3 separate regions of the Homo sapiens genome follow, and regions 1 and 3 are each linked to region 2. The links come from fine-mapping of genetic effects on gene expression. A gene starts in region 2. Each other region holds a variant in brackets. All regions are shown on one strand. Distances are from middle to middle. Region 1 overlaps MAPRE1 (microtubule associated protein RP/EB family member 1). Region 2 holds the start of EFCAB8 (EF-hand calcium binding domain 8). Region 3 overlaps DNMT3B (DNA methyltransferase 3 beta).

The links.
Region 1: its variant is fine-mapped to the expression of EFCAB8 in whole blood (TOPMed, PIP above 0.99).
Region 3: its variant is fine-mapped to the expression of EFCAB8 in whole blood (TOPMed, PIP 0.95).

What each region holds. Positions count from the first base shown.
Region 1 is chr20:32,830,033-32,838,032 of GRCh38, reverse strand. MAPRE1 (microtubule associated protein RP/EB family member 1) reads right to left here. Exons shown (of 7, transcript NM_012325.3): 3 at 4,171-4,316; 4 at 1,192-1,399. Among named protein-coding and RNA genes, the nearest start is that of MAPRE1, 14 kb to the right of the region's middle. RefSeq lists an enhancer at 4,953-5,453. The variant G/A (reference allele first, on the strand shown) is at 4,853.
Region 2 is chr20:32,854,335-32,862,602 of GRCh38, reverse strand. EFCAB8 (EF-hand calcium binding domain 8) reads right to left here and starts at 3,680. Exons shown (of 27, transcript NM_001143967.2): 1 at 3,597-3,680. It overlaps LOC119746555 (a long non-coding RNA gene), which reads right to left and starts at 5,971. Exons shown (of 1, transcript NR_171378.1): 1 at 3,852-5,971. RefSeq lists an enhancer at 3,001-3,813.
Region 3 is chr20:32,776,024-32,784,245 of GRCh38, reverse strand. It overlaps DNMT3B (DNA methyltransferase 3 beta), which reads right to left. Exons shown (of 23, transcript NM_006892.4): 2 at 3,781-3,928; 3 at 2,832-2,893. The coding sequence starts at 3,922. Among named protein-coding and RNA genes, the nearest start is that of DNMT3B, 18 kb to the right of the region's middle. RefSeq lists enhancers at 2,179-3,179, 3,180-3,680, 3,681-4,182, 4,183-4,683, 4,684-5,184 and 3 more. The variant C/A (reference allele first, on the strand shown) is at 4,818.

The DNA of each region.
Region 1 (8,000 bases), 24 kb after region 2:
TGGCTCACTGCAACCTCCACCTCCTGGGTTCAAGCGATTCTCCTGCCTCAGCCTCCTGAGTAGCTGGGATTACAGGCATGCACCACCATGCCCAGATAATTTTTGTATTTCAGTAGAGATGGGTTTTCACCATGTTGGCCAGACTGGTCTCAAACTCCTGACCTCAAGTGATCTGCCTGCCTCAGCCTCCCAAAGCGCTGGGATTTACAGGCATGAGCCACTGCGCCCAGCACAGGGTTTCTTTTCAGAGTGATGAAAATGTTCTAAAATTGATTGTGGTGATAGTTACACAATTCTTTGGATATATTAAAAACCGTTTAACTTTATACTTTAAATATAAAAATATAATTATATGGCATGCGAATTGTCTCTCCATTAAGCTATTTAGAAAGCACTCAACCTACCCTCTCTATCAGATGAACAAGCCTCTCTCTAGGTATTATGAAACCTTAACTAATATTCTTGCCATCCTCTGGAAAAGAAGAAATTAGCATCTGTAGAGTATCTACCCTGCCCCAAAATATACACATTCTATACTAATGTAAACACATCTTGGGAAAGCTACCAAGCCCATACCCTTTTGAGAAGGTATGTAAAATCAGCCTCTCCCCTACCCCCGCCCCTGACTCTGCTAGCACCATGGCAAGCCAAAGTCACCTAGCAGCTAAAGTTCTAGGGCAGGTAGGGAAGCTGTGAGTATACACAGGAAGCTGGTCTACAGAGAGAATAACACAGACAGCCAAGAGCAGTCCCTGAGAGACCTACACACTTCCTTCAAGGAGTTCAGCTCTGGTATAACTTCCCATCCTAGGGCTCTGTAAAAATGCCCTTGTTTTGGAACAAACTAATGCTCTCTTACATGAGCTAGCCTGATGGATTTCTAGAGCTTTGGCAAAACTGCATACAGTAACTTGTTCAAGTTTCAAAAACCCTCTGGGGCAAGTATTAAAATTCCCATTTTATAGAGGAGGAAACTGTGGGGCAGAGTTGAAGTTGCTTACACAGGGCTACAGACACCTAAGGACACACACCGTTATCTGCCTGATGCCAAAATCCATACTCTGGCCACATGCCTGGGATTATATTTCTTAAGATCCCTAAGCCTATGGCTACTGAAAAAAATTCTAGTTGAACGCTGAATGAATATCTGGAACGCTATTTTTTGGAAACGTTTTGGGGTTGTTTTTTTACCTGCACTGCTAGAAGTGAGAGGTTTCTTCGGTTTATTCAGAGCTGGAGCAACAAGGGAAGGAGCCACTGCAGTTTCTTGACCTTGTCTGGCAGCCACAGGGTCATAGTCTTTTCCATCATAGTTTGCATCGAAAAACTTCTTGAACCACTGAACGAATTCAAAATTGTCCTGAAACTTTCCTTTTACTAATTTGTCCACAGGAATTATCTGCAGAGAAAAACAACTGTTTAGCCCCAAAAAAGAGGCTTTTGGCAAGCATCAAACTAGTCCATGCATCAATTCATTATAAAGCTCTGCCAAAAGGAGAAAAAAATATTTTAGAGACCTTAGGGCTAAGCCCCTAAATTTATAAAGCAAGTTTCATGCAGTTTGCCTTCAAGAGTACCTACACTTCCCAACCCCTCCCCACTCTCTCAAATGTATGAAAAGGAATCAGAAACAAAAAAGGAACAAGTACCATATAAGTCACATACACACATCCATCCAAGCACATCGTAAGACGTGATACAAAAGTGCATTATGCTATAAAGAGTAGGTCCGCTATATAACTTGCATGGCCACAATGCCTATCACAAAGCATGAAATCCACTGCACAGGCCAGGCACAGTGGCTCATGCCTGTAAACCCAGCACTTTGGGAGGCCAAGGCGGGCAAGAGTTTGAGACCAGCCTGGGCAACATGGTGACACCTAGGCTCTACCAAAAATACAAAAAAATTAGGCAGGTGTGGTGGCATGCGCCTATGGTCCCAGCTCCTTGGGAGGCTGAGATTGGACTGCTTGAGCCCAGGAGACAGAGGTTGCAGTGAGTCGAGACTGTGCCACTGCACTCCAGCCTGGGTGACAGAGAGAGACCCCATTTAAGAAAAGGGAAGAAAAATCCATTGCACAAACCAACCAAAGGCATCTACAATGAACTGTGTTCAAGAAAATTCTGGGCCGGGCGTGGTGGCTCACACCTGTAATCCCAACACTTTGGGAGGTCAAGGCAGGTAGATCACTTGAGGTCAGGAGTTCGAGACCAGCCTGGCCAATATGGTGAAACCCTGTCTCTACTAAAAATACAAAAATTAGCCGGGTGTGGTGGCGGGCGTCTGTAATCCCAGCTACTCAGGAGGCTGAGGCACGAGAATCACTTGAACCCGGGAGGTGGAGGTTGCAGTGAGCTGAGATTGCACCACTGCACTCCAGCCTGGGCAACAGAGTGAGACTCTGTCTCAAAAAAAAAGAAAGAAAAGAAAAGAAAAGAAAAAAGAATAATTCTAACCTGAAAATAGATCAAGATGCAGAATCAGTCTCAGGATAAATTTTTACAAAATGACATGTTTTCCAAGTAATTCCAAATCCTATTAAAACATGCTTGCTGGGGGCAGGGCTGCCCACCTGCAATCCTAGCTATCTTGAGGACTGCTTGAGTCCAGGAATTTAGACCAGCACTGGCAACACAGCAAGACCTCATCTCAAAAAAAAAAAAAAAACACCAATAAAAACACACACACAAAAAATAACAAATATACATAAGGACCCTGTAAGTATTTCTATTATACAAGAATACTGTGTTTTCAAGTATTCAAATCACTGAAGTGTTGGCCACAACTTAACTTTTTAATCTTTTTTAGAGATGGGGTCTTGCTCTGTTGCCCAGGCTGGAGTCTTATGCTGCAATCATAGCTCACTGCTGCCTCAAACTCCTGAGTTCAAATGATGCTCCTGCCTCAACCTCCAGAGTAGCTAGGACTACAGGCATGAGCCACCATGCCTGGCTTTTAACTATCTTTTAATCTCCAAAGATTCCAGTTGCAATGTATTATAAAAAGAATATATCCAATAATATATCCACCCCTCTGACAAATATAATTTTTAAAAGTTACTTTGCTTGATACTGAAACATTCACAAATATTACCTCTGTACTCACTTCAATAACCCAGAATACATAGGATAGGATAGAATTAGATATAAAACAAAATTGGCCATGCTAACCATTGAGTTACATGAGGGATCATTACACTATTTACTATTTATTGTTTATACACTATTATTACTTTTATATACTTTAGACATTTTCCATATTCAAAAAATAAAATTCCATAATAATGAATGCAAAATTACTGTATATGAACTCTATTTAAACTATGCCTGGAAAGTTAAGTGATATTCTTATACTATAAATGCCTATTTTATATATTGTAGAGACAAAACTAAAATTAAAAAAAAACCCTGATTTCAAAATAAATAAAAACCAGACACCAGCAAGATAATTGGGGGTGTTACTACCTTTGCCATAAAAAAAAAAAGTTATCCCCCCAAAAATGGCTTAAAAGGATAAACCCTTCACAAGGGTGGGGGAAGGGATAAACTACTTAATCTATTATCTACTAAAACAGAGGTAATATTTGTGCTAAACATTAAATGTTTGTGCTAAACCATGCCTGGTGGACCATGTTTCTGTTACCTTCAAAAACCTTTGGGGGCAGAAAGGAGTTTTCCAGCACCCACCACGGAGCCTCCTTGTAACCTTCTATAAAAAGCAAGTATTTCTAGAATCTTCTCCACCTCAGCCTCCAAAGTGCTGGGATTACGGGTGTGAGCCACCACGCCTGGCCTAGAATCTTCTCTACTGGAACTATTCTACATACAGTATGCTTTTACAGAAGTAAATCCAGATTAAGAGAGTTAGATTCCAGACTACTAGAGATTACACAGGAATTTTTTAAAAATAAAAATCACTGTACAAATTTACAGGCTGACTCCTCTAAACAGTTACTAACTTCACAGACGATGAAGAAAGAAACAAGCAAGGGGAATAGGGGCAAGAAGGTAGGGGCAAACTGCTCCCAGTAAATTCTGTGTTAACTGAGAAAAGTTAACTAGATAAATTAAGAAAAAAAAGAAAATGTCCAAAGTCATAAGCTAGCATCTACCTCCTTAGTAACGATCATTAAGGAACATTAACCACAATAAAAGATAACGTTTACTTACTTTGTCAACACCCATTCTCTTAAAACCTGCTTGTAGTATTTTGAAGTTCTGGATGTACTCGTGTTCTAGCTTAGCTTGGAATTTCACTTTCTTCAAGGCAATGGAGCCAGGGAACAGCATGTCCATAAACTGACAATACGCAGCCCCTGAAAGAACAACGGCAACAGAAAAATACAATTAAAGAAGCAGGGTGAACTTCTTCCCAGACCCACTTAAACCAAATACAATTTTTAAAATTGTGAAGTAGACCTACAAAAACCAAAAGCTTCACTAACTTCATGTGAAGTCAATTTCTAAAACCTGTAACAAGACTGTGGTTTTCACCCCATATATTCTACAACATACTTGCAACCCAGAAGCCTATAACAAGGAGAAAAGGAGTGTTTCTACAAAATTTTAAAACTCCTGTTCTTTATTGGTAATCATCATGACAATAAAATGACCACTAGAAACAAAAATGAATGCCTAAAATACAGAAAAGAAAATAACAAAAGTGACATTTTCTGATTTTTCACAAAGATATACCCTCCTCTTCAGGAGGCAATTTCCAAGATCCATCCTTGATCTAGATTAAAAAACATTTTTTTCCCTAAGACGTCTGTCTCCCTGGGCTTTTTACATCTCTAAATACATTTAACCTATCATTTCTTTTCTTTTCTTTTCGAAACAGGGTCTCACTGTC[G/A]CCCAGGCTGGAGTGCAGTGGCACAATCTCAGCTCACTGCAACTTCTGCCTCCCAGGCTCAAGTGATCCTCCCACCTCAGCCTCTGGAGTAGCGGGACTATAGGCACGTGCCACCAACGCCCAACTAGTTTTTTATTCTTTTTGTAGAGCACCCAGCCAACCCGTCATTTAATTAACAAAGTTGAATAGAAGACATTTTTGTGTTCCTCTATTAATTTTTTATTTATTTATTTTTTTTGAGACAGAGTCTCGCTCTGTTGCCAAGCTGGAGTGCAGTGGCGTGATCTCGGCTCACCGCAACCTCTACTTCCTGAGTTCAAGCGATTCTCTCAGGCCACTGCACTGTCTCAAAAAAAAAAAAAAAAAAAAAAAAGCGAAACTCTGGCTCAAAAATAAATAAATAAAGACTACTATGATAAGGCCAGGCACCGTAGCTCACGCCTGTAATCTCAACACTTAGGGAAGCAGGTGGATCACTTGAGTCCAGCAGTTCGAGAACAGCCTGGGCAACATGGTGAAACCCTGTCTCTACAAAAAATACCAAAATTAGCTTGGCGTGTTGGCATGCCCTTGTGGTTCCAGTTACTCAGGAGGCTGAAGAAGGAGGATCACTTGAGCCCAAGAGGTCAAGGACTGCAGTGAGCCATGATCACATCACTGCACTCCAGCCTGGGGGACAGAGAGAGACCTCGTCTCAAAAAAAAAAAAAAAAAAGAGACTACTGTAATAAATTATTGCAATATTTCATCCCATTTCATTCCTTCCCCCACTTGCCCATTTTTTTTTTCCAAAAAGTGTTTTATTACTGCTTAAACTTTCCAGGAAGATTATTTCTCTAATGCCGACAAACTGAACTCTCCTAATTCACAGCAGGCTTCACTGTGTACTTTACTGCCCTTCCAGGGCTAATTTGCCAAAGGAACAAGCTTGGGAAGCTAAACCAGTGGTTAAGTAATAAGTAATCTGCAGAATTCAAGACTGCCATAAAATGCATATTCAACTTACTTGAGGTCAGGCCGAACCAGTTCTCTGCTGGTTCCAGCATGTTCGGTTACCGTTATTTTTGGAAAGTCAACATAAACGAGAGCAGGGGCACTTCAGTGACCAGGGTGACATTCTTAATTAAGAAAGGATCTTCAGAAGGTTAAGGCCTTGATTTCTGAGGTGACTGATTTATTTACTCATCCAACAAAAGTACACTGAGGGCATTCTTTTGTTTTTTTTTTTTTTTTTGAAACGGACGAACTTTTTTTAAAAACCCAAATAGAAGACAATCTATTCAGCAACTATATCCACAGTGGTATTTTACCCAGTACTATTTTACACAATTAAAAAAAAGAAAAATTGGCCAAGCGCGGTGGCTCACACCTGTAATCCCAACACTTTGGAAGGCCAAGGCGGGCAGATCACCTGAAGTCAGGAGATCGAGACCAGCCTGACCAACATGATGAAATCCCGTCTCTATTAAAAATACAAAAAAATTGGCCAGGCGTGGTGGCGTATGCCTGTAGTCCCAGCTGCTTGGGAACCCGAGGCAGGAGAATCGCTTTAACCCGAGAGGCGATGGTTGCAGTGAGCTGAGATCGCACCATTCATTGCACTCCAGCCTGGGAGACAGAGCAAGACTCCGTCTCAAAAAAAAAACAACAAAAAAGAGACAATGACTTATGAATGAAACTGGTTACCAAAATTGCACAGGAGTTAAAAAAAAAAAAAGTCAACAACTTATGCATGAAACTGGTTACCAAAATTGTACAGGAATAAAAAAAAAAGAAAGAAACATTCTTATTTATTTCCCTATTTCTAAAAAGAGAAAGAATCAATTACATAAATATTGGCATCCAGTCCTCCTGATAGACTTTTATGCGAGTATGATTCTCTTCATGTTTCTTTTTCTTTTTTAGAGACAAGGTTTTGTCATGTTGCCCAGGCTGATCTCAAATTCCTGGGCTCAGGTGATCCTCTCACTTCGGCCTCCCAAAGTGCTGGATTACAGGCATGAACTACCACACCTGGCCTTTAATTTTTTTTAATGAAGACCTAACTATTCATAATCAGAAGAAAATGAGCTTCCTATCTTCTGTTTTGGTTTGCTTTATGTAAAGCAAGGGAAAAATCAAGGAGGTGCTTGAAGACTTAGGCAAAAATGTTTGAAGAGGCTGGGCGCGGTGGCTCACACCTGTAATCCCAGCACTTTGGGAGGCCGACGCAGGCGGATCACGAGGTCAGGAGATCGAGACCATCCTGGCAAACACGGTGAAACCCCGTCTCTACTAAAAATACAAAAAAATTAGCCGGGTGTGGTGGCGGGCGCCTGTAGTCCCAGCTACTTGGGAGGCTGAGGCAGAGAATGGTGAGAACCTGGGAGGTGGAGCTTGCAGTGAGCGGAGATCTCCAGCCTGGGCAACAGAGCGAGACTCCGCCTCAAAAAAAAAAAAAAAGTTTGAAGAGATACTTCCTTGATCAGAAATGTGACTTGATAAAACCAGTCCCTCAGAAAGGCTGCAGACTTATGCAATATAACAAAAGGGAAGGTGGGGGCTGGGAACTTAGAGGGAACTTAGTGTTCAGTCAGGAGGCCACTGCAGCAGCAGTGAGCAATCTGAGAAGGGGCTGGATCTAGAAGCTCTTTCAGAAGACAAATAAAACTGTGAATTAGCCTCAAAAGATGCTTCTCAGGCCTGGGACACTGGAAGAAAGATGGAATCATGGCCCCAAATGGAGTACCTGGAAAAGGGAGCTAGCCTGAGGAGAAAACAAAGCTGAGATTTTAAGTAATGACAGGTAGGGCAAAAGTATCCCATAAACAGAAATATCAGACCAGATCTGAGCTGGGAGAGGCCTGGTTACAGGTGTGATAACACACTCCCAGAGCAGGAGGACCATGTCATTAGCAGTGCAGCAGAAGCAAGATCGCCAAGCTGTCTTACATGAACTCAAGGGCTGTCGGGGCCCCACATTAAGCTGAGGAGAAAGGAATCTACCATTTGCCTGGGAACATCAACACCTTTGCTGCGAAGGAACCCATAAAGGAAGCCAGGCTGGAGGGAGAAGACAAGGAGGAGAAGGGGAGAGCCGAATACATTCAGTGAGACCCCTCTACATGTGCAGAGGACCAAGCTGTGCTCTTGAGAAAATGCAGAGGGGC
Region 2 (8,268 bases):
GAAGACTGAACGGTACCCAAGAATGCTCTAATCTAGCAGTGTCTTGGCAACAGCTCACACCTAAGGACCAAAGGAGAGAGGACAGCCTAAGGGAAGGAGATTTGGAAGCCAAGAAGCAAGCTAACAGAAATGCCAGAACCACTTTCAGAAAAAGGAGCAAAGAGGGAAAGTGGTTTTAATGCATGTGATACTAGGCTGTCCAATTAGGAATAAAAAATAGGCCGAGGCGGGAGGATCGCTTGCATCCAGGAGTTTGAGACCAGCCTGGGCAACATTGAGACCCCACATCTACAAAAAATCCAAAATTAGCCAGGTGTGGTGGCACATGCCTATACACCCAGCTACTCAGGAGGCTGAGGTGGGAGAATTACTTGAGCCCAGGAGGTTGAGGCTGCAGAGAGCTGAGATCATACCACTACACTCCAGCCTGGATGACAGAGTGAGACCCTGTCTCAAAAAAAAAAAAAAGAAAAGAAATAATAAAAACAAGTATCTGGAAATCTGGGGACTGAAACTTGAGGAGTGGCTACATTTAGAGGACAGAAAGAGGGAGAAACACACAAGACAGCTAGGAGAATGGGACGCTACAAAGTGACCTAAGGTGATAAGGGAAAGAAACAGCCACTGAAAAAGGCAATTAAGAGGTTACCAGTGAAAAAACTAAAGTGTATGTAAAATGTTAAGTTCATTTCTGTTAAGAATATATGCATGTGCATATTGGCACATGCATAAAAAAGAGCCTGGAAACATATACTCCAAAATTAATAGCAGTCATCTCTGGTAGGTGAGATTATGGAAGATGTTTATAGCCTAAATCATGCAATTCTCTGATTTTTATTTTAATTAAAAAAGGGTTCATGGCGATCTTTTGAGATGGGGTCTTGCAATGTTGCCCAGGCTGGTTTTGCACTCCTGGGCTCAGGTGATCCTCCCATCTCAGCCTCCCAAGTAGCTGGGACAACAGGCACATGCCACCACACCAGGCTCATGGCAATCTTTAACATGTGTTTCAACGGCTAGGCGCGGTGGCTCACATCTGTACTTCTAGCACTTTGGGAGGCCGAGGCAGACGGATCACCTGATGTCAGGAGTTCAAGACCAGCCTGGCCAGCATGGAGAAATCCCATCTCCACTAAAAATACAAACGTTAGCTGGGTGTGGTGGTGGATGCCTGTAATCCCAGCTACTCAGGAGGCTGAGGCAGGAGAACTGCTTGAATCCAGGAGGCGGAGGTTGCGGTGAGCCGAGATTGTGCCATTGCACTCCAGCCTGGGCAACAAGAACGCAACTCCGTCTCAAAAAAATAAAATAAAATGTGTTTCAGTGGAGTGGGTAGGATGGTGGGTAGTAATTTAAATGACTCCTTTGTGAAAGGCCACTGTTGAAGAGTGATTGCTGCAGCATCATTCATAGGAGCAAAAACCAAAAGTGAACCATTATAGACACAGAAATGAACAAATCAGTGCATCTGCACCTAGGACGTCACCCAAACATCAGAAGGATGAATCTGACTTCCAGCAGCTAAGAGAGATTTCCATGAAGTACTAATAAGAAAAGCACGATGCAGGCCAGGCACAGTGGCTCATACCTGTAATGCCAACACTTGAGGCCAAGGTGGGAAGATCGCTTGAGCCCAGGAATTTGAGACCAGCCTGGGCAACATGGTGAAACCCCATCTGTACAAAACATACAAAAAATTATCTGGGTATGGTGACACTCCCCTGTAGTCCCAGCTACTCAAGAGGGTGAGATGGGAGGATTACCTGCATCCAGAAGTTTGAGGCCGTAGTGAACTGTAATCACAACACTGCACTCCAGGGCCTGGGTGAGAGAATGAGACCTTGTCTCAAAAAAATAAATAAATAAAAAAACCAAGATGCAGAAAAGGGTGCACACTATGATGCCAATTTTTATAAAAGAATGAAAAAATAGCCTGGGCACAATGGCTGACGTCTGTAATCCCAGCTACTCGGGAGACTGAGGCACGAGAATCGCTTGAACCCAGGAGGTGGAGGTTGCAGTGAACTAAGACTGTGCCATTGCACTCCAGCCTAGGCAAAAGAGTAAGACTCCATCTCAAAAAAAAAAAAAAAAAAAAAAAAAAAAAAAGTTACCACCATCAGCGATGGAACAAAATGACATCCATCACACACCTCCTGATCCGATACATGCAGGGCACAATGCTTCAGTAGTATTATTGCCAAAAAAATACATGATCTGAATCTAATCATAAGGAAACAGACAAACCCACATTACAGGATATTCTACAAAATAACTGGGTTTTTTTTTGCTTTTATTTTTGAGAGTCTCACTCTGTCACAGGCTGGAATGCAGTGGCTCAATCTCAGCTCACCGCAACCTCCACCTCCCAGATTCTGATGATTCTCATGCCTCAGCCTCCTCAGTAGCTGGGATTATAGGTGCACGCCACCATGCCCAGCTAACTTTCGTATTTTTAGTAGAAACAGGATTTCTCCATGTTGGCCAGGCTGGTCTCAAACTCCTTGGCCTCAAGTGCTTTCCGCCCGCCTTGGCTTCCCAAAGTGCTGGGATTACAGGCGTGAGTCACCGCGCCTGGCCAAAATAAAATGCCATGTAAACCAAAGAAAGGCTAAGGAACTGTTAGAGATGAAAGGTGACTCAAGAGACCCAACAACTAAAGGCAATGCACGATTCTGAATTGAATCCGATTGGGAAAAAACAAAAATGCTGCAAGGGCTGTTATTTGGTGAAATTATGTAAAATTTGAACATGGACTCTATATTATTAGATAGCATATTAATGTTTTCTGCTTTTGATAACTGTATTGTGGTTATGAGAATGTCCTTGTTTCAGGAAATGTACACTGAAAAGTATTTAGGGGTAAAAGGGCATGATGTCTGTAATTCTCAAATGGTTTAACAAGTAACATGTATAATAACACAAATGTGGCAAAATGTTCACAATTAGTCTATCTGGACAAAGGGAAGTTCTTTGTAGTAGTCTTACAACTATTTATATATTTTTAATTATTTCAAAACTAAATATTTTGTAAGATAAATGTCTTTCACCAGGAGAAAGTGGTTCTATGTATGTTCATGAACAGAGGTAAAACGCCAAATGGGAAAAAAAGTGCTGGTTGCTGCCAACAGAGACCACCCAAAAGAAAAGGGCAAAAGCAAGAGGGGAGAGGCCAAGACAAGTACCATTCCTCCAACTCTGAAGGGAAGGAAGGGAAGGCTGAGATGTAAAACTCGGTTGATATTTAGAATTGGAGAACAGGTCAGATCAGAAGTCACATCCATCTGCCTCAATCTATTCCCTAAAGTTGACCTGTCCGGAGCTGACGGAAGAGGGGCAGGGCAAGGCAGGTGGGAGAGTACCATCCAGAACAGGGGTGAGAATTCAGAGCAGCCACTAGGGGAACATGCTAGGGATGAGAGGGGAACGAGTGGTTTGTACGAATTTGTAGAGGCAGATGACTTAAGGATACATGCATTGAAAGCCAGCCAGGACACAGATAAGAGCTGCTCTCCAGCCTTGGAGGTCAGGCAGAGGTCTTCAGCAGAGGTATCCAATCTTTTGGAGAGCAACTTTCACCTAAAACCCTCACTCACCCTGACTCAATTTGATCTCCTCAGTTAATCTTGCTGGCAAAGTCTGGCAAAGTGCTAACACTTTCCAACTCCCATCTCAACAAAGACATTGGCAGCTGTTCCCAGTCCAAGACAGCTCCTTTATGAAGTCGAGATGGAACTCTGGGTCTGCTGGTCATATTTAGAACTAGGGAAATGAGACAGAATTCCGTATGAAGAACATAAATGAAGCATCAGAACCCGTCCCACAAACCATAATCACAGAACCATTTTTCATCCAATTTGAAACATTTCTTTTATTGAAGAAGTTGAACTTACAGCAGACAGTGAAAGGAGTTACAGCACTCCAGGACAAACACAGACATAAAATAATACATAAAACAAGTAGCGGGAAACTGGAAGATGCCAGGGAGTCCTCTTATAAAAGCAGGGTTCACCAAAACCAGAAGGCCAACTGGCTCCAGGACAGCGAAAGGCACAGTGGCTCCTCTGCTCCTCTGCCTTCTGCCCCATTTGAAATGGGGGACTTACAAATCCAGACTTCAGGGCAGGCCTAGACTTGATGCAGCCACTGCAATCTTGGTCCATGGTGCAATTTGGCAGACAAGTTGGTGAAAGGTAAGTTGTCTCCAGAGATTTCAATCAGGGACGTGGCTTCCAGATGTTAAAAGATACCCAGCTAAGTCACAAGGAAGTGGATGTTTTCAAATGCTAAGTGACCACCAAACAAAACATTCTCCCTGGGCCTTCACCACTCAGAGAACACCAACATACAAAAACAAAAGTCTGTTCCCATTTCATCAATAATGGAGTTTTAAGGATTTTGTCATAGTGTAGAATATTAAGAATGGATGAATAAAAAGTCAAAAAAGGTGCAGAGGTCCTATAAATCAGGGTTTATTAGACTAGATATTAATAAATTGGAAGGGTTTAAAAAAAAAAAGGCTGTTGGCCCTACATATGACAGTTTCCCATTGTTTCTTAGCTTAGTATATTTATTTTCCAACACAATGTTAGCAATTCTTACAGCAGTTCTTGCATTTTTCCAATAACATTTTTATTAATCAAATGGTATATATTTTTCACTATAACCTATTTTCACTGATTAATACATTTATCAGTATTTTAATGTGGCCTAAAATATGCTAAATTCTGTCACAATAAATATGTTTTTCCCTCCCTGGGGAGAAACACAAGTAAAAAAAGGAAAATATTAAGATGCATTCCACTTTTTAGTTAAGGAAAAGTTCAGAAAACTCCCATCTTTTTAAAAAAGAATGAAAATATGATCCTAAGTAACTCAGGTTAGAAAAACAGTAACAGAGCCAGGCGCAATGGCTCACGCCTATAATCCCAGCACTTTGGGAAGCTGAGGCAGGAGGATCACTTGAGCCCAGGAGTCTGAGATCAGCCCAGGCAACATAGTGAGACCATGTCTCTATTAAAAAAAAAAAAAAATTAAAGAGAGAAAAAAACAGTAATAATAAAACAAGTGGGGAGGAGGACATTTAGAAGAAAAATCTAGATAAACCTCTGCACAAAAATAATTTTGGAAAAAAGTTAGAAGTCCTACCTGAGATTAATTCAGGCGTCACTGGCTAATGCTAAGGGAATTCTGATTGGAAGGCAGCAACTCAGGGGCCCAAGGACCACATTAACAGATGCAATTACCTGCCCTAGAGAAGGCGCTTCCTCACACTCCCACTTAGCTGCAATGCCAATACTGTCCTTTCAAGCTTCAACCCTGTGATTTTAAGATATCAAAACTTGTATCCTTCTTCAGCTCTATGTAATTTGTCAAAAATTTCAAGATGCAACTCTATAGCCAAAAAGAGAGCCTTTTACTTTTTCAAACAAAAATAAACAAGAGAAGTCACTGACTGCTAAAACTAGAAGGGACCCTCAAGATTGGTATCACAGGATCACACCTTCATCTGGCAGTAGGTTGAGGTCAGTAACTCAGCTCACATGACATTTAAAACCACACAACACTACCAGAGAGAGCTACAGGTTCAGATGCCAATGGTTTCAAAAAACCATGATTCAGGCCGGGTGCAGTGGTTCACGCCTGTAAACCCAGCACTTTGGGAGGCCGAGGCAGGTGGATCACAAGGTCAGGAGTTTGAGACCAGCCTGGCCAACATGGTGAAATCCTGTTTCTACTAAAAACACAAAAATTAGCCAGGCACGGTGGTGCGTGCCTGTAATCTCAGCTACTCGGGAGGCTGAGGCAGGACAATCGCTTGAATCTGGGAGGCGGAGGTTGCAATTAGCCAAGATCGCACCACAGCACTCCAGCCCGGGCGACAACAGCAACACTCCGTCTTGAAAAAAAAAAAAACAAAAAAACCACGATTCAAGAAAAAGGCAGATTCTCCTGTGTTCAGCAGCTACTTTAAAAAAAAAAAAAAAAAAAAAGGCACTTCTTGGCCAGGAGTGGTGGAGGACTGCTTGAGCCCAGGAGTTTGAGACCAGCCTGGGGAACATAGCCAGACCCTGTCTCTACAAAAATAAAATTAGCTGAGCAGTTCCAGCTCCTTGGGAGGCTGAGGTGGGAGAATCACTTGAGCCCGGGAAGTCAAGGCTGCAGTGAGCCGTGACCATGCCACTGCACTCCAGCCTGGGTGACAGAGCGAGACCCTGCCTGGAAAAAAAACAACAACAACAACAAAAAAGCACTTCCTAATGATTGGGGAAAATATTAAATATTAGGTCAGAGAGTTAAACACTCTTAGAAATTTTTAAGAATACATTTATTTCACTCAACACTGAATCTTAAAATTATTACTTCTTCAGACCAGGCACGGTGGCTCAGGCCTGTAATCCCAGCACTTTGGGAGGCGGAGGAGGGCGGATCACTTGAGCTTAGGAGTTGCAGACCAACCTGCACAGCATAGTCAAACCCCATCCCTACCAAAAAAAAAAAAAAAAAAGAAAATTATTACTTCCTCTCTCAGGCTTCAAAATTAAGGAGGAGGGAGGGACAAATTGGGATATCCCATAGCTGCCTGCAAAAAACACAATAGCTTATTCCATTCTCCCAAGCAGGATTTAAAATTTCAAAGTGAAAACAGCAGTCATATGTAATTATACATGCTTAACTCTCTCACATTTTGTAGAAAAACATACAAAATACAAAAAAAAAAAAAAAGACTGTATCAAGTTAGAAAACTTAAATAGAACACCAAAATCCAGATGACCTTGAAGTTTTGCTGGATCTTAAAATCACTAGAACTACTTCAAAATATATAAATAGGCCCCATTATGAAAAATATAAATATGAACATGATAAATAAGCAAGAGAGGAAAGGAAACTGGTCACTCAGATAAACCATGACAGGTCCTGGGTAAAATACATTTAGACGATTCGGGGATGGAGGTACTAGAATTAGCAAGGCCCTCCCTGCAGCTTGCAACCTGTGGGGAAAAAGCCAAACAGGTGGTAGGCCACGTGTATTATTGCTCCTGCCAAAGCCTCCTCTTTCAGAATCAAAAACCACAAGTAGTTGAGACACTGTGCTTTTCTATCAAAATCGCCCTTCACTGGTGAAAATTAGCCTCCACTGGCAATGTTCGCTGGGAACTGTACACTCTCCCACTCTTTCTTGTTCCGGTATCCTACTGACTTTTACAGACCTCGGTAACTTTTTCTGAACCAGGACTCAACTCCTCACTGAGCCAATGAAAAGCCATGCTCTGCAGACTTCAGATGCAGGGCCTAGCAGAGGACTCTGGTCTTAACTCCTGGTCCGTGGCATTCCACTTACAGCACCGTCTTCCTCATTTATTTCAGTAAAGGTCAGAGGTGGGTGCCAGCCACACACCCATTTCATATGTTCAGTTTTACCCACTTGTGTGCTTGACCTTGGACTTAACTTCAATACTCTGCATTGCAATTTGTGAATCATCCATTAAGGCTAAATCTTAAAAACTAATCTTTGTCTCCACTGGAGACACAGTAACTAGTAACTAAACCACAAATCCAGCTTTTTAAGATTTACCCTGACAGATTGACTCTCACCCAACAAAAGCTTCCGACATCCCACTCTACTGCTAAAACAGAAAGTAAATGAAAGGCTCAGTAGATGGAATAAATTACTCTTCCTCCTCTGCCTCATACCTACACCCAGCCGCACCAACAATCTCCTCCGACTACAAAAAAACACTCAAAGTAAACCAGGAAAAAACTAAGGTAGAAATTTTTAAAAAGCAAATAAGGCAAGACAAATAGAATTCCAAACTGCATATATATATATAAGATATATATGATCATATATATATATATTATATATATGATCATATATATCTTATATATATTATATATGATCATATATATATATAAAATCTTTTAAATAGAGACAGGGTCTCTTGCTATGTTGCCCAGGCTAGTTTCAAACTCCTGGGCTCAAGCAATCCTTCTGCACTGGCCTCCCAAAGTGCTGGGATTACAGGCATGAGCCATGACACCCAGCCCCAAACTGCTGATAGGTTATTTTACAATTATAAATTTATATCTTGATGCCACTTACAAAGTTCTAGGCATTGGTGGGTAACCTGGTTTGCTTTCAAATGGTCACAGGACAAAGAACTGCCTCCTCACACTCAGAAACGTGTCTATGAAGGCTATTTCCATTTCACATTTCAGAACCTGAGAGCCTCCAATACAAGGAAACGAGAGTTATTTACAATTTTG
Region 3 (8,222 bases), 78 kb after region 2:
CCAAGATGGTGAAACCCCATCTCTACTAAGAATACAAAAATTAGGCCAGGCGTGTAATCCCAACACTTTGGGAGGCCGACGCGGGTGGATCACCTGAGGTCAGGAGTTCAAGACCAGCCTGGCCAATATGGCGAAACCCTGTCTCTACTAAAAATACAAAAATTAGCAGGGCATGGTGGCATGTGCCTGTAATTCCAGCTACTCATACTCAGGAGGCTGAGGCAGGAGTACCGCTTAAACCTGGGAGGTGGAGGTTACAGCGAGCCGAGATCGCGCCACCGCACTCTAGCTTGGGGAACAAGAGTAAGACTCCATCTCAAAAAAAAAAAAAAATACAAATACAAATACAAAAGTTAGCTGGGCATGGTGGTGCACGCCTGTAAGCCCAGCTACTTGGGAGGCTGAGGCAGGAAAATTACTTGAACCTGGGAGGCGGAGGTTGCAGTGAGCCGAGATCGTGCCATTGCACTCCAGCCTGGGCGACAGACTGGAGACTCTGTCTCAAAACAAAACAAACAAACAAAAAGAAACGTGTGGGCAAGAGATTTCATTACTGTTTCTGGTAACTAGCTACCAGAAACAAAACAGCAGTGCTGAGCCTCTGATCCTGCAGCTGCCCTAATTCCTCCCAGGGCTTAGGTTCCCCACCTTCTGAGTCCCCTAAGTAGGTTGGCCACCACCAAGAGAATGGAAGCTGAGGGTGAGTTTTCATTGCCCAGGACTTTTATGACTGATACTGGCTCTGAGCAAAACCAACCCAATTGACAAACTCTACTAAGAATAATTAGGAAACAGACGGTGTCAGTAAAGGAAGGAACACAAAACAAGATGGGAAAGATCCAACCTTGGAAAAGTAAATGAAGTAGAAAGCTTGATAATGTAGCAAGTCTTAGAAGATATAATTGTTTGAAATTCATTAAAATAAGCTTAGACAAGTTTCTTCCAGCTTGTAAAAAAAATTCCTTGAGCCCACCTAATCCTAACATCAAAACCATAGATATATTTAAAGAAATAAAATGGGCCAGGTATGGTGGCTCACACTTGTAATCCCAGCACTTTGGGAGGCCGGGACAGGTGGCTCACTTGAGGCCAGGAGTTCGAGACCAGCCTGGCCAACATGGTGAAACCCCATCTCTACTAAAAATACAAAAAAATTGGCTGGGTATGGTGGTCCATTGCCTGTAGTCCCAGCTACTCGGGAGCCTGAGGCAGGGGAATCGCTTGGGCCTGGGAGGCAGTAAGTTGCAGTGAGCAGAGATCATGCCATTGCACTCCAGCCTGGGCAACAGACTTCATCTCAAAAATAAATGAATAAAAAAAAATACCCATTTCATTCATGAATACATGAATAAAATCAACTTCAAAATGCACCATAACCAAGTTGGACTCATTCCAGGAATAAAAAGACAGTTTGCTATACAGTAGTCTCCCCTTATCCAGGGGGGATACATGCAAGACCCCCCATGGCTGCCTGACACCTTGGAAGATGGAACCCTATATGTGCTCTGTTTTTGTCTATATCTACATACCTATGATAAAGTTTAATTTATAAATTAGGCACAGATTAACAACTAATAATAAAATAGAGCAATTACAATATACTGTTAATAAAAGCCATATGAATGTGGTTTCTCTCTCAAAATATCTTCTTGTACTCTATTCAGGGTTAATCTGTCCTTCCATGGTTTATGACCTAGTGTCTTCCTCCTTTGCACTTTTATGAAGGTAGGTTCTATTAGACATCATCTTCTGGAGGAGTCTGGTTTCACTGCAGTCTTAGTTTTGGATTGTTTCCTTTCTCAATCAACTTCAACTCTTCTGAAAATGTAGCAGCAGGTTTTTCATTGGCAAATGCAGCCTCTCCAGTCATTTTTATAGTTTTCAGTAGAAACCTATTCTTGAATCTATGTAACCATCCCTTACTTGAAGTAAATGGTTTGGTGTCAGGGGATCCCTTGCTATAGGCTCAATGCTCCCTGGCACAAAGCACTGCTGTCAATCAGAACATATTTCTGTTCATGTCTTCCACCTACAAATTTAATGCCTTTCCCATCTTAACTACACACTTATCACACAACATGGCCATAACTTTTGCAGTTTGAGGTGCAACAGTAAAACTAGCATGCATTTATTTTTCCTTCTTCATGATTTCACGGCTGGAAGATTTGTTCTTACCACAGATCTAACAACTTCAGCATATGATTTCTTCTTTCCTTTTTGAGAACTTTCACTTTTTCACTTAAAGGAAACACTTCATGGCTTCTCTTTGGCATAACTGAATTGCCAGCGTCATCACTCCTGCACTTTGGAGCCGTTATTAAGTAAAACAAGCACTACTTGAACACAACCACTGTGATACTGCAACTGATCTGATCACGGAGACGGCTACAAGTGACTAACAGGCAGGTAGCACCTAAGCATAGAGATGTTGGACAAAGACAGGACTGATCCTGGGCAGGACGGAGCAGGACAGTGCAAGATTCCATCATGCTACCAGAATGGCACTCAATTTAAAATGTATAAATTGTTTATTTCTGGGATTTACCATTTAATATTTTCCATTTAATACTTTCAGACGGCAGTTGACTGCAAGCAACTGAAATCGTGGAAAGCAAAATGACAGATAAGAGGGGACTACCATATTAGAGATTTAGCAATGTAACTGATCGTCCAGATTGAAAAAATAATGCCAAATATATGCAGAAAGCATCTAGCTCGGCAACCCTCCATACATTTGCAGATGCCAGTTTTTATGGGCCTCAGGCAGCCCACGTGATGAAAGCCAAAGACAAAGTCCCTGAGCCCTGAAAAAGGGAGAGCAGAGACCATACCTGTGTGTAGCTTAGCAGACTGGACACCTCCCTCTTGGAGAGTCGCGAGCTTGATCTTCGGCCTGTAGAGGAAACAGCCAGGAGTCTGTTTTGTGGGGGCAGGCACCAGTCTGGGGAACGGCCTTGCTAATAGGGGCTTTTCTCCGTGGCGTGGCCTGGGATCTCCCCTACACTATTGTCAGCCACAGGGATTTGCTCTCAGTCCGTCAGTATCGTTCATCTTCTCCACTGATTTTATTCCTAAGACAACAGAGCCCTGGGCCAGGCACGTGACAGGACCCAAACCAACACTGAAGTTACCAAGGGGAGCCCTCCGATTCCTTCCAGCAGGGTGCTGCCCATCCAGGGACCACTAACTACATTTCCAGGAACAATTCACTGCCTGCTGTGTCAGCCGCTTCTCAAGTGCTCCCATGTAGAGTGTGGCTATTGTGGGGAACAATGCAGAAATAGAACCCTTTCACGCTCGCAGGAAGTTCCATGGGATGGCACAGCTGAGAGGACAATGCAGGGCTTTCCAACCCAGCTGGGGCGGGATCCCAAGTGAGCTGGCTGGAGCTGCTCAGGGCAGGGTGGAAAGGAAGCACACTCCAGACCTCCCCCTCCCAACCCCAGCCCAGCTCTGAGTGGGGAGAGGGTCCCACTGCAGAAGGGCTCTCCAAGGGCCCATGCTGAGACCACCCCTGTCATGACTGGCAGAGGACAGGGAACCATCACCCTTGTGTCACGCTCAGAGTCCCAGCTGAGATGAGAGTCCCAAAGGGGAGGCCAAGGGCTGCGGGCAGGTGTGAAGGGCTCGACCCTGCATCCCTCCTTGCTAGAGCTCTCTTCCCTCCCGGGGAATTGTGGTGGAGGTTGTCAGAGACTCTCCCCAAAGCCTCCAGTTGTCTGCAGTGACCGCTCACTATGTCAGCGCCTGACACCACCCCAGTCCCCACTGCCCAGCCACCTCTGATCTCCGGGGTGCGGATAGCCTCCAGGATTGGGGGCGAGTCGGAGGACTGGTCGCTGCAGGCCCCGTTGACGAGGATCGAGTCTTCCCTCCCGCCGGCGTCCTCCTCTCCATTGAGATGCCTGGTGTCTCCCTTCATGCTTTCCTGTGGGAGAAGCCAGAATGGGTGGGGTGAAAGGGAAGCAGGGACATGAGAGGGACAGTGTTCCCCCGCCATGGGCTCTGTGTTCTCAGGCCAAGGCCCCAGGATGCATTCTTAGGGTGATGCTCTTGCCCAAGTACCCCACCCAGGCTGCCCCCCATAGCCTCCCCCTCACCAAGCTTGGAGGCTCAGGACTTGGTTCCATGTGGACAGGCTGTCCCGAAGGCTCAGACGCCAGCACCCAGGACAGAGTGGGGAGGCCAGGGCTGGGGTCTCAGGCTCAGACTGCTCTGTGCAATTAGCCGGCCCCTTCAAACAATGCCATTTAGGACCTGCCTGTCCCGGCCCGTCTGCCGCCAGCCTCTGTCCCCTCTGGCCCTGGCCCCCTCTCCCTGCTCAGCCTCTGCAGGGGCTCAGGAAGCCAGTGCATTATTTTCCCTCCTGACCCCTTTGTTTGCTCTCTCCCTTCCCCTCAATCTCCAGGTCCTCTTCCCACCCACCCCCTCCTCCCCCACAGAACCGCTTCTCTCCTCTCCATGGCAGCACAAGCCCCGCCTCACCCCATCCTCCAGGGCCCATTGGTCTGCTGGCCTGTCGCTCACTCCCCTCCTCCCTCACCAGCTGGGGCTCAGAGTCCCAAGTTCCCAAGGAGGGAAGGATGGAGGCACAGGCAGAAAGCCTGGGGGCAGTTACCAGGAGGGGGACTCCCCAGATCCATTGTAGCCTCACCCTCACCTCTGGGACTTGGCCTCCCCACTGCTGCCCCTCCTGGTCAGGTAAATCAGCTAACACACAGGGCCAGGGCCATACGGATGGGTTGGCAGGCTATAACCTCTGGGCTGGCCCATTGCCTGCAACATTATGGGCACACAGATTTTGTTGGATGCAACAA[C/A]CTGTATCTCCCCCTAGGGAGACTGGGGAGCTCACCTTCTAGAAAAAGAAAACTGACATCCAGACTAGGTTATTCTCCAAGGTCATATAGCCCATCTAAGAGGTAGGGCCAGGATTAGATAGAGAACGAGTAAAAAACTTCAGGGCATAAATCCCCGCTGAAACCGAGTTTTCCAAGTCACTTGCCTTTGCTTTTTGTTCCACCTTTGGTTGGCAAAAATATTATAAAAGCCTAGGCATAATGAGACCTCCAGGCCCCCATCCCTGAACCACAAACAGCTCCAGGTCACTCACACCACACCCTTGTGTCCTGGAACCGTGCCTGGGAAAAGCTTCCCCAATAAGCTGCTGCCATATGCACCGGGCCTCCCTGCCTCGGGCTCCATCGTGGAGACATACCAGCCCCTGCCAGACAACCCGTGCTAGCCTCGCAGTTTATCTTCTATCTGTCCATCCATCCATCCATCCATCCATCCATCCATCCATCTATCTTAGAGACAGGGTCTCACTTGGTCACCCAGGCTGGAGTGCAGTGGCGTGATCACGGCTCCCTGTAGGCTTCAACTCCCAGGGCTTCAGTGATCCTCCAGCTGGGCCCACAGGTGTGTGCCACCAGGTGTGGCTAATTTTTTGTAGAAACAGAGTCTGGCTATGTTGCCCAGGCTGGCCTCAAACTCCTGGCCTCAAGGGATCCTCCCACCTCAGCATCTCAAACCAGGGTACCTTCTAGAAGCCACACCTTGTATTGCGGGCTCCAAGCTGCACTGGCGCCACTGGCATCGCCCACCAGGGGGCACCGTGAGCTCAGTCTGATGAGCCCAGTGGCGCCCCCAGGCAGAGGTGCAATCTGTGGTGAGAGCTCCCAATTCCAGACCCTGCACCTGCCCATGGCATGGGGCAACTGGACCTCTGCTGCTACTCCCTGTGTGGCCCAGGAGCCACGCAGGCTACAGTACCATGAACTGAGAGCTGCTTGGAAGAACTGTTGGAAGTGGGAGCTGGCTGGAGAAATCTCCACCACTAAGCTAGATGTCCTGAAGCAGGGTTTTCATTTTTTTTTTTTTTGAGACAGAGTCTCCCTCTGTCGCCAGGCTGCAGTGCAGTGGTGCGACCTCCGCCAGGCTGGAATGCAATGGCACGATCTCAGCTCACCGCAACCTCTGCCTCCCAGGTTCAAGCGATTCTCCTGCCTCAGCCTCCTGAGTAGCTGGGATTACAGGCATGCGCCACCACGCCCAGCTGATTTTTGTATTTTTAGTAGAGACAGGTTTCACCATGTTGGCCAGGATGGTCTCGATGTCTTGTCCTCGTGATCTGCCCACCTCAGCCTACCAAAGTGCTGGGATTACAGGCGTGAGCCACCACACCCGGCCTGAAGCGGGATTTTCACAAGACATTTTAACACACACAAGTCATGCCTAGGTGATTAATATGCATGTTAAAGCAGCATTGTTCAGATTATAAACATGTGCGCTGATACATAACACATAGGCTTTCTGTGCTTCACATGATCCAGAGTGTGTATCAGCACCTGTTAAGGAATTTCCCCTACCAAGGACAAGGGACGTGCCTGAATCAGACCAATCAGCTGCTTCTCAGCCCTTTTTCTCCCAAGCCCTGACCCGGAAGAACAGGCTGGCTGACCTATGGCCAGTTCCTATGAGACAAAGCAGTCAGAATCCCAGGAAAGCTGCTGCGGTGTCGGTTCAGAATAATCATTAATTTCAAGCGTTTCACCTCAGGCCAAATCAGTGAACTAAGTAACCTAGTGGGCCTGGCATAGAGTGGGAGGTGGGGCTACCTGGTGTACCTGGTGTCTCCAGGAGGGTCCACCTCCCCAAAGTGCTCTGGGGGGAGGACACACAGGGTTTGTTTGTGGCCAGGAGCTGGTAGCAGACCAGAGGCCTGGAGTGAAGGATGTGACCTCCTTCGCCTTCATCCAGGGCCTGGGGTTCTAATGTGTGCTGGGTTTCGCAGGCAACATTGAACCCCATTCCTCAGACAGGCCCTAACTGGGTCAACAAGAAGCCAGACAGGAGTCTCACCTCCTAGACAGACCCAGGCTGACAATGATTAACCACCCTGGGCCTTCCCCCAGGGCCTCAGCAGTGCCAACTGGCCACCAGCCTACCCAACGTGTGGGCAGCACACCTTCCAAAACCCATATCTCAACATTCAGGAAAAGCCTCAAGCCCCTAGAACAAGACCTGTGGGTACTGGAGAGACAGTCCAGGAAGAAAACCCACAATAAATGGCACTAGCTACCTGGGTGTCCCCCAGGAGCAAGCTGAGCACTTATATATGCTTTCTTCTCGTTGCATAATTCAATGTGATTTCATTTAAAATTCCTTCTGTTTTTATCACGACCCTACGTTTGTAGTGAAATTAACTACCCTCATTGCCTTATAGCCACAGCTGTGTAGACAGCGCACACCAACTTCAGAACCTGCACCCATGACTAAAGATGCCCAGCTCAGTTCCTCCCCCACCCCGCTTCAGTCTACACGCAGGCCAAGACAATCTAGCCTCGAGGCATGTGCTGCTGTGTTCTCTCAGCCTGGAAGCCCTCCCCAACTCCCTACACCTCCTGCTTCCTTTCTCAGACCTCAAAACCCACAGCTCAAAATCCAGGAATAAAAGCTTCTCTCCTAGGCCTTTCTTCCCACATATATAAATATATAAAAATCCCCCCAATAAGGTCATCTTTTTTTCAGTGTTACTATGTGTCAGGCACTGTTTTGGCTTTACTTATCTTAACTCATTTAACCTTTAAATGTGGTAAGTACTGTTATTCCTGTTTTGCAGATGGAGAAACCAAGACAGAGACTGACATACTACCTCCTTGATCAATATATAGGGAAAGTAAATAACATACAAATTTAACTACATGTTCTTAGAATCAGGACAAGAGAAATTAAATTAGCATCAGGTGTGTACCAGTGGATACAAATCTCCCCCACCTCTTTTCTATGTATCTCACTGACTTCATGATTCAAGGCTGGCATTTCCAGATAACATGGCCCCCATCACAAGCCAACTGCTTTATCTAATATGACCTATCCAGAGTGGCAGACATGCTGGATTTAGAACTGCATCATCCCACACTGCCACTGTAACATTAAGTAGCTAACAGTTCCCAGGGCCCTACTTACTGTAGGCTGAACACTGTCTACCACCATGGATTTTTTTTTTTTTTTCTTTTTTTAAGATCAAGTCTCTGTCACCTGGGCTGGAGTGCAGTGGCGCGATCTCGGCTCACTGCAACCTCCACCTCCCGGGTTCAAGCGATTCTCCTGCCTCAGCCTCCCGAGTAGCTGGGATTACAGACTTGCACCACCATGCCTGGCTAATTTTTGTATTTTTAGAAGAGACGTGGTTTCACCATGTTGGCCAGGCTGGTCTCAAA